2 separate regions of the Homo sapiens genome follow, and region 2 is linked to region 1. Evidence: fine-mapped expression QTL. A gene starts in region 1. The other region holds a variant in brackets. All regions are shown on one strand. Distances are between the middles of the regions.

Region 1 (4,397 bases):
AATAATCATCCCCTTCCCAAATACATTTCTTTCTTTGTTTCTTTCTTTTTTTTTTTTGAGATAGAGTCTTGCTCTGTCACCCAGGCTGGAGTGCAATGGCATGATCTCAGCTCACTGCAACCTCCACCTCCCAGGTTCAAGCGATTCTCCTGTTCAGCCTCCCAAGTAGCTGGAATTACAGGTACCCAACACCATGCCTGGCTAATTTTTTATATTTTTAGTAGAGATGGGGTTTCACCATGTTGGCCAGGCTGGTCTTGAACTCCTAACCTCAGGTGATCCACCCACCTTGACTTCCCATAGTGCTGGGATTACAGACATGAGCCTCTGTGCCCGGCCCCAAATACATTTCTTTAAGTTGAAATTTTCCCTCCTGAGTTTTCTTAAATTACGACCCTTTCATATTATTTGTTCACTTTGTAAAGTATTTTAAATTTCTCTTTCTTGGTCAACTCTCCAGAAATGACTGACTTCCAAATCCACCACCTACCCCCTGGGAATCAACTCTATTTTTCACATTTCCAGTTTAGCATCTCTTTCTTCAATCACACATTCATTTGCACTCACCTAAAGGTTTGGTCAGCAGCATAGACTTATACTCTCTCTCTCTCTCTTTCTCTCATCTATGAGTCATTACAATTTCAGTAGAATTACAATAACGAGTTCAGAACCTGTCGCCCACACCTCACAGTAAGTAAAAGGAACCAGAAGACAGCTTTCTCCTCTTATAAATGTCAAGTGTTCAGCATGTCTCCAGTGGGTGCTGAATAGAAAAGTAACCTTAAAGAAGTCAGTCCTTGGGTTGGAGCAAAGCTTTCAGAATTCAGAGTCCATAGTTGACTTTCCTACAAGGGCATATGATTGGTAGTTTCAGCTTCCTTTTTCATGAGGCTTAACTGTCTGCAGCACCGGCTTGGTGTCTGATCTGTTCTGATCGGGTGGGAGAGGGAGACCCCACAAAACAAACAGCAGAGGATTTTCAGGTTTGTTTCAAGGGCAGCCAGCCGAGCTGTGTATAGGGAGTGGGGGGACAGGGGTGGTGTTGATGGTCTTCCTTCCGAGGCTTATCAAATGTAAATGCTCTTTTCTTAACAAGCTGACCCACTGTACACCACACCATACTAATGAGCAATTCTGCTTGGTCAACAAAGGGTGCAAGAGGTTGTGGAAAACCCACAGTAGGGCTTGCATTTGGCTATCACTATGCCCTGCATGAAGATCTCAAAGTACTGTGCCTAAAAGTCATTACTGAGGTTTGGTAGGAAGAATATTAAACCAGAATAACTTGAGATACTAGCCAAAGTTTATTTTTGTTGTTGGTATTATTTTGTTACATTCAGACAGAGAGAAATGCATTTAGGCAGACTGGCATGATCTGCGCTGGATATTTGACCAGGCAATCAGAAGCAAGGAAAGGAAGAAAGCCAGGCAAGAGGGAAGGGGTGACATCAAACGTGCCCTCTGTATTTCGCTCCAGAAAACAGCTCACAATTATGACTACCTGCCTTGTTTTGCAGCTCAGCATAAAAGTGGTGTTGCACCAAACCCTACTGGAGCAGCCTTCATGATTAGAAAGTACTCCACACCTTGGAGAGCTGAGGAGACATGAGAATAATTTTAAATGCAAATTAAATTGAGGGGGTAGCAGAGAAGAACACATAAAAGACAGTAAAACAAAACCTTTCAATTTTCTTAAATTAGCAGTCTAATGTGTTCTAAAGAGCAGCTCCACTCAGATCTCTTCTTAAGGGTTGCATTTCATCACAGTATAAATGGGCAAATCCATCACTTCCCTCTGCTCAGTGCTCTTGAAGCGAGATTGAAGGGAAAATTAGAAGCTGTTCATTTGTGCTTGCGGGCTCAGAAGCGTCGCACTGCTTTGTTTTGTACTCTACCGTGTCCTGTTGAAAGGGGTCAACAAGTGCCGGTGAGTATCCGCTAACTTCCAGACTCTTCCTTTCAAATATCTTTTTGGCTAATTTTCCTTTGCCGGGGATGGGGGTTGTGGGGGGAGTGGGGATCTCCCACAAAATCTATGCTATAATATGTCTTTCAGAATCTGGGAAATTTCAGACAGCTTTTTAAGCTTCTTCCAGTGACTGATTTGCAGAAGGGAAGAGTTATTTTCAGCCTAGATGCCGGTGGCTGTTCTGTGTATTAATTATAACAGGGGAATGTCTAACGTATGTTAAGCTAAAATGGCCTTTCCCTAAACTCCCCCATTCCCTGCCACTCTTAGGCCAGCATTAGGGTAATAACTGGTGCCCCCACAAAAATTTCTAGACAACTTTTCTATATATTAAATTTTTAATCATTTCATATTCTATTCTTTTGTAGCTGCAAATCAAACTAAGATTTGGGATTATGAAAATAAACAATGAAGACATAAATCTGTTTTGTTTTTTTTTTAATGACTATGGCACTTCTCTGCCTAAGAGATAGGGGGCTGGGGAATAGCCCTGCATGATGTATGCATGTGGATTTGATGATTTTCTGCCAAAGTTTTACACGGGAAACTGGTAATTTTCTCCCTTCGCAGGGGAGGGTGCAGAGGCTGAGGCTGGCGTCACCTTCCGTTGCTAAGGTAACGTGCTCTGGCCATTTTATCTGATAAAGGAAGTCCAGTGGACTGTATGCATTATTCATCACTGTTCTAATCAAACAATCAAAATCGTTTACTTTCACCGGGAATATTTAGCAAGATCAAAGACACTCTGGCTGGAACGGCTCTTGTTTTACCGCTGACAGATAGCCTTTGATTTTTATTTTTTGCAGTAAGTATATTTGCTATTGGGGTACCTTTGGGTATTTTTAAAAGTTTTGTCTTACCGGACTTGGTTTCTTAAATTAAAATACATACTGTTAGAAAGAGAAACCAATTGGATTAGACTTCCAAGCTTGGTTTTAATGACTTTGTCTTGTTAATTCTTTCCAAAAAAATATTCTGCAGAAATAGAGATAATTCATTTGTGTGAGTATCAGGGAAAGGCTACATAGGCTTGAAAAAAGAACCCAACAGGCTGAATGTTTTCTGGGGAAGTATATTAGCTTTGTGACAGGCTAGTGTATGATAATATAGGGATCACTGTAATGCTGCAATCATTCTTGCTGCTCTACAAACCACAATTGTTTCTCAAAAATCAGCCCCTGCCAGGCACAGGCAGGTGACGATCCTCTAGCACTTTATAAAATGTGCTGAAGGGAATCGCCGGAAAGGAAGGAATTCAAAGCATTTGTACAGCAAATATGTCAGTGTGTGTCATAAACGCACGGCATCTATGAGTGGAGGCTCGGATTCCCAGGCAATTTTCCCTGCTCCAGGGGAATCCGAAAGTCCCAGGATGAGCTGAGGATCAACACTCACAACGGCTGACACTTAATGACGCTATTTATCAAATAGACCTTTTGAAAACTGATAGCATGTGAATTTAACAGTATATGTTCCAGAGAATATAAAGCAAGGAAAGGCTGGTATGTTATCTCTCTTTAGATCAGATCATCTGTTTTTCCTGAGTAGAATATATTACTTTTAATGAATGTTGGCTAAATGCGGCATTTTCTCACACGGTAGGAAAGCTATGCTGGGGGGTGGCTTTAGAATTGCAAATGTCAATCAAGTAGTAGAATATTATAATGGGATATTCTTATTCAAACATTTTAAAGTACATCTATATATACACTTTATACTTGACGTCTAAAATATTGTGGATTTTTTTTTCCTCTTTATAGGTGTTCCAGTGTTTTCTCTCAAAACTCTGTGTTTGGAACATCAAGGATGGATTATCCCAAAATGGATTATTTTCTGGATGTAGAGTCTGCTCACAGACTCTTGGATGTTGAGTCAGCTCAAAGATTCTTCTACAGTCAAGGAGCTCAAGGTAATAAAATAAGAAAAAGAAATTCCTCTTATTTGCACGTCGGTTTTATATGAACAGCCATGTAGGCTGTAGCTGTTAAAGCCTTGCTCTGAAAGTTTAATAACCGGTATTTCTAAGTTGATAACCTCTACCAAACTGCTGCTGGAATTGAGGCAGGTATATAATAGAATAAATAAATCCACACTTCTTGGATGTGGTTAAAAAAATGCCCAACTTTTGGTGTAAGTGCCCCTCAGAAAGCTATGTTAGAAATGATTTCCTACCACCTGTGTCCAACACTTATGTCCAAAAAGAATCAAGAATGCTCTTCCCCTTGGAGAATTTCCAGTTTGCAGCCACAGCTCTTGAAATCTTAGGGCATCATGACCCAGTGGACTGGAATCCAGCAGGATTAGGGGCTCTTGAGAGAAGCGCTGAGCTTCTCTATAGCTGCCTTCTCTATTTTAGCTGAATTCAGTTACCGCCTCAGATAATTACTAGTGTACATTCAGGGAGCAAGCCTCTTGGGAAGTGTGGTTG
Region 2 (4,397 bases), 480 kb after region 1:
TACCTTCCCACCCCAGGCTGGAAAGCATCAGGATAGGTGGATTTTCAGAAGTGTGGTGAAAGCCCTATTAGCAACACTGCAGCTATATAAGGTACTTTGCAATTTACAAAGCACGTTCACGTGATCCTGTCTGACCCTCCAAACAACCTATGGCAGAGGTGGGGAATGTATTATGATGTTTGTCTCAGAATCAAGACTACATTTGCTGATCTCCTCTGATGCATCAAGGACTGTACGGGGGCTACTTTATACTCAGGCCTTCTGCTGACCTATATGGAGACTTTGTAAAATTAGAAAAAGTGCCCTGTAGAGGATGCCCCTTCCTCTAGAGTGAATCAGCCCCACACCAGGGCAGGCCTCAGGCTAGATTTCAACCCTAAGGTCCCCTCAGCACCTTGCATGGAGCTGTGTAGTTATTAATCTATTTACTTCTCATTACAGATCTATACTCTGGGCAATACTCCCTTTCTACAGATGAGAAAACTGAGGCTCAGGAAAGCTAAATGTCTTAGGAAGAGTAACAAAGTTTCTTGGTCTTGGAGCTGTACTTAAACCCCAGCTCTTCTGAGTTCCTTTTTTTTTTATTATTATTATTATACCTTAAGTTCTAGGGTACATGTGCACAATGTGCAGGTTTGTTACATATGTATACATGTGCCATGTTGGTGTGCTGCACCCATTAACTGGTCATTTACATTAGGTATGTCTCCTAATGCTATCCCTCAAGGATCTAGAATCATTCTTCTGAGTTCTAAGCCAGTGGTGGTTTCACCAGGACATTCTGCCCTCGGCCCACAGCAGAAGCCTCTGCACCTCCTTCCCAGCCCTCCCAGAGCAGTGCTGGGATAATCTCCTCCTCCACAAGGCTCTGGGCATTTGTTATTTTGCCTATGGAGGGAGTAGCCTCTTTGGAAAGGAATGCCTCTTTCAGGGGTGCTTCTCAGACTTGATAGATCAGCGTCCCCTAGAGATCTTGCCAGAGGGTCTGGGGTGGGCCCTGAGCATCTGCCTTTCTGATAAGGTCCCAGGCCATGTGGCTCCTGCTAGTCCATTGGCCACACTTTGACTCGCAGACCTTTAATACAGCAGAAACCAGTCACTGAGTTCCACCTTTTCCCGTTGCCCTGAAGACATGATGAAAAGATAAACAAACGTTTATTGGGTATCTACTATGCACTAGGCTTAGTTCATTCTAGCAGGTAAAACAGGAGGAAATAGCCACGCTCAGTGAAATTTAATAATTACTACATCACACATAGCCCTTGCAAGGAAAAATCAGCAACATGTTAAGAAAAATGAAAGGGATTGAATTGACTCAATAGGCAATGCTGTGACACAGGGAAGCACGAGGCCTTGGGGGTCCCATGGGCAGGCGCCTCAGCCAGCCTCGGGATGATGGGCTTCCTAAAGGAGGCAATTAATAATGAGGATGGTGATAGCATCAAGAATTATGGTTACTCTCTGTGGAATAACTGTCTGGAGTGTCTGGAGTGTCAGACGCTATGCCACACGGTTTATGTACTTTATTTAATTTTACAATTGTCCTATAACACAGGGGTGTCCAACCTTTTGGCTTCCCTGGCCCACATTGGAAGAAGAAGAATTGTCTTGGGCTACACATAAAATATACAAATACTAATGATACCTGATGAGTGAAAAAAAAAAAACGAAAGAAAAGAAAAAGATCCGTGCATAAATCCCGTCATGTTTTAAGAAAGTTTACCATTTTGTGTCGGGCCACATTCAAAGCTGTCCTGGGTCGCATGCAGGCCGCCGGTTGGACAACCTTGCCATAACACATTATTTCACAGATTGGAAAACTGAACATCAAAGAGATTAAGCAATTTGCTGAAGCCAACAGAACTGAATCAGTGCATGATTTTATAGTTTATCTTATACTTTTTAGACCAACAAATGTTGGTAATGATTTTGTGCCTCTTTGCC[T/C]GATGAGAACTTGCAGCACCAGGTGTCATTTCCATCCAGGTAGATCAGAGTGATCTGGGAGTTTGTTTACAAAGCAGATTCCTGGGCACCACTGTGGACTTATTGAATCTGAACTCTGAAGGTGAGGCCCGGGAATCTGCCTCTCCCAAGCTTCCCTAATGAGGCTGATGGAAACACTACTTTAAGAAGTTAGCTGCTGGGAGCAGTGGCTCACACCTGTAATCCCAGCACTTTGGGAGGCCAAGGCAGGTGGATCACGAGGTCAGGAGTTTGAGACCAGCTTGGCCAGCATGGTGAAACCCCATCTCTACTAAAAATACAAAAAATTAGCTGGGCTTGGTGGCGTGCACCTATAATCCCAGCTACTTGGGAGGCTAAAGCAGAATTGCTTGAACCTGGGAGGTGGAGGTTGCAGTGAGCCAAGATCACACCACTGCACTCCAGCCTGGGCGACAAAGTGAGAGTCCATCTCAAAAAAAAAAAAAAAAAAAAAAAAAAAAACATTGGCATCTTGAAAAGTGGATGCCATGCAGTAGAAGCCTGATCTACCCAATTCCCTTTGTCATCCTCACTATAAAAATGTAATCGCCTCACTAAACAGAAATGGGTACTAGATATATATTTCTTGGTTTGTTTAGTAAATTTACAGAGTGCACATAGGGTAAATAAAAAATCAGCAAGAAGGCAGAAGAACCTGAATGCTTTGAATCAACTATGTAGGAAAAGCTAATTGTTTGATGAAGTACTTATTGCTTGACACAAAATTTTGAAGAAAGGCTCTTTATGCAAACTTGTCTAAAACATCCTTAAAGTTTAGACAAGATATAGATAGAAATAGAATAAAAGATTTTATTTCTATAGATAGAAATAAAATAGAAAAATTCACCCACAAGGATATAAGACATCTTATCATTTACAAAAGGCTCAATGACAAATGATTTTTATAAAACTCAATTGGAAGTGCCATTAGACAAATTGGTTTAAGAAGTATCCTTTAATTGCACATTCTAATGTGGACAAGATAATCATTAGGTGAATAGATTTTAGGCAAATTAGCTTTTAATAAATTGGTTTAGGGAAAATTGCTCTTTTACTTTTTACATGTTGGGAGCATAGAAATAGAATCTGGAAATTATCCCAATGACCCCCCAGGATGGACATTGGTCCAGATGCTGGATGGAACTGATGCATCCTGGCCTTGAGTGCTGCAGTATCCCTGCCTCAGGCAGCACCATACACCAAGCGATTTAGCACCCTGAGCCAGTGATTCTCAGCTCCTTGTATATGCTGAGCATTTGGGAAGAATCTTTTTTTTTTGAGATGGAGTCTCACTCTGTCACCCAGACTGGAGTGTAGTGGCACAATCTCGGCTCACTGCAACCTCCACCTCCTGGGTTCAAGCGATTCTCCTGCCTCAGCCTCCCGAGTAGCTGGGATTGCAGGCACGTGCCACCACGCCCAGCTAATTTTTGTATTTTTAGTAGAGACGGGGTCAAAGTGCTGGGATTACAGGCACGTGCCACCACACCCGGCCAGGAAGCATCTTAAATCCAAATGTCTGGCCCAAAGATTCTGGTTCAGCAGGTCCAAAGTAAAGCCCAGGAACATGAAGTTGCATCAGGCAACTATTGCAGGTGTTCCAAGGACTCTGCTCTAAGAAATAGTGCCCTTTTGTTCAGAGAAAAGGACAAAAGTAAGAGGCCAAGAGTTATTTTTGACTGTGGCTTTTTACAAATGCAATGCTGGGCCAGGTGGCCAGCACTGGGTGGCCACCCACTTTGGGAGGCCGGGGTGGGTGGATCACCTGAGGTCAGGAGTTTGAGACCAGCCTGGCCAACATGGTGAAACCCCATCTCTACTAAAAATGAAAAAAAAAAAAATTAGCCAGGCATCATGGCGGACACCTGTAGTCCCAGCTACTCGGAGGCTGAGGCAGGAAAATCACTTGAACAACCCGGGAGCGGGAGGTTGCAGTGAGCTGAGGTTACACCATTGCACTCTTGCCTGGGCAACAAGAGCGAAACTCTGTCTCAAAAAAAAAAAAAAAGAAAAAAATTAAAAAAAGAAAGAAATATAATGCTGGAACCCAACCTAGAATCCCTGAGAAGAGGAATGAGCATCATTGTGATTCTGATGCACCCCCAGTCCTGGTCCTGAGGACCACAGGGCAGTGAGCACGTTCCATCATTGCCCAGCCTCAGAGTCCTGCTGCAGCACATGTAGGAGGAGCCATCCAGGAACTAGCTGGGAAGACAGGGCTGACCCAAATGGAGCCAGCAGTAACCAGCACAAAACAGAGCCAAATTCACTGGCGCTGCTGACCACCAGGGTTGTAGGAGTTAAGGGAGGAAAGGCTGCCAGAGGAAAGCGGGTCTTCATTTGCCGCTTGAGGGGCAAATGCAATTTTTATTATCAAGGAACAGGAAGGCATTTCAGGAGGTGAGTACAGCAAA

What was found. PIP is the estimated chance that this variant, and not a neighbour inherited with it, causes the effect.
Region 2: its variant is the best candidate, but not a certain one, in a credible set for the expression of PHACTR1 in whole blood (TOPMed, PIP 0.59).

The regions. Positions count from the first base shown.
Region 1 is chr6:12,714,970-12,719,366 of GRCh38, forward strand. It overlaps PHACTR1 (phosphatase and actin regulator 1), which reads left to right and starts at 1,798. Exons shown (of 15, transcript NM_030948.6): 1 at 1,798-1,927; 2 at 2,540-2,774; 3 at 3,730-3,878. The coding sequence starts at 3,776. All of the region lies in intron 1 of LOC107984015 (a long non-coding RNA gene), which reads right to left.
Region 2 is chr6:13,196,968-13,201,364 of GRCh38, forward strand. All of the region lies in intron 7 of PHACTR1 (phosphatase and actin regulator 1), which reads left to right. Among named protein-coding and RNA genes, the nearest start is that of TBC1D7, 130 kb to the right of the region's middle. The variant T/C (reference allele first, on the strand shown) is at 1,945.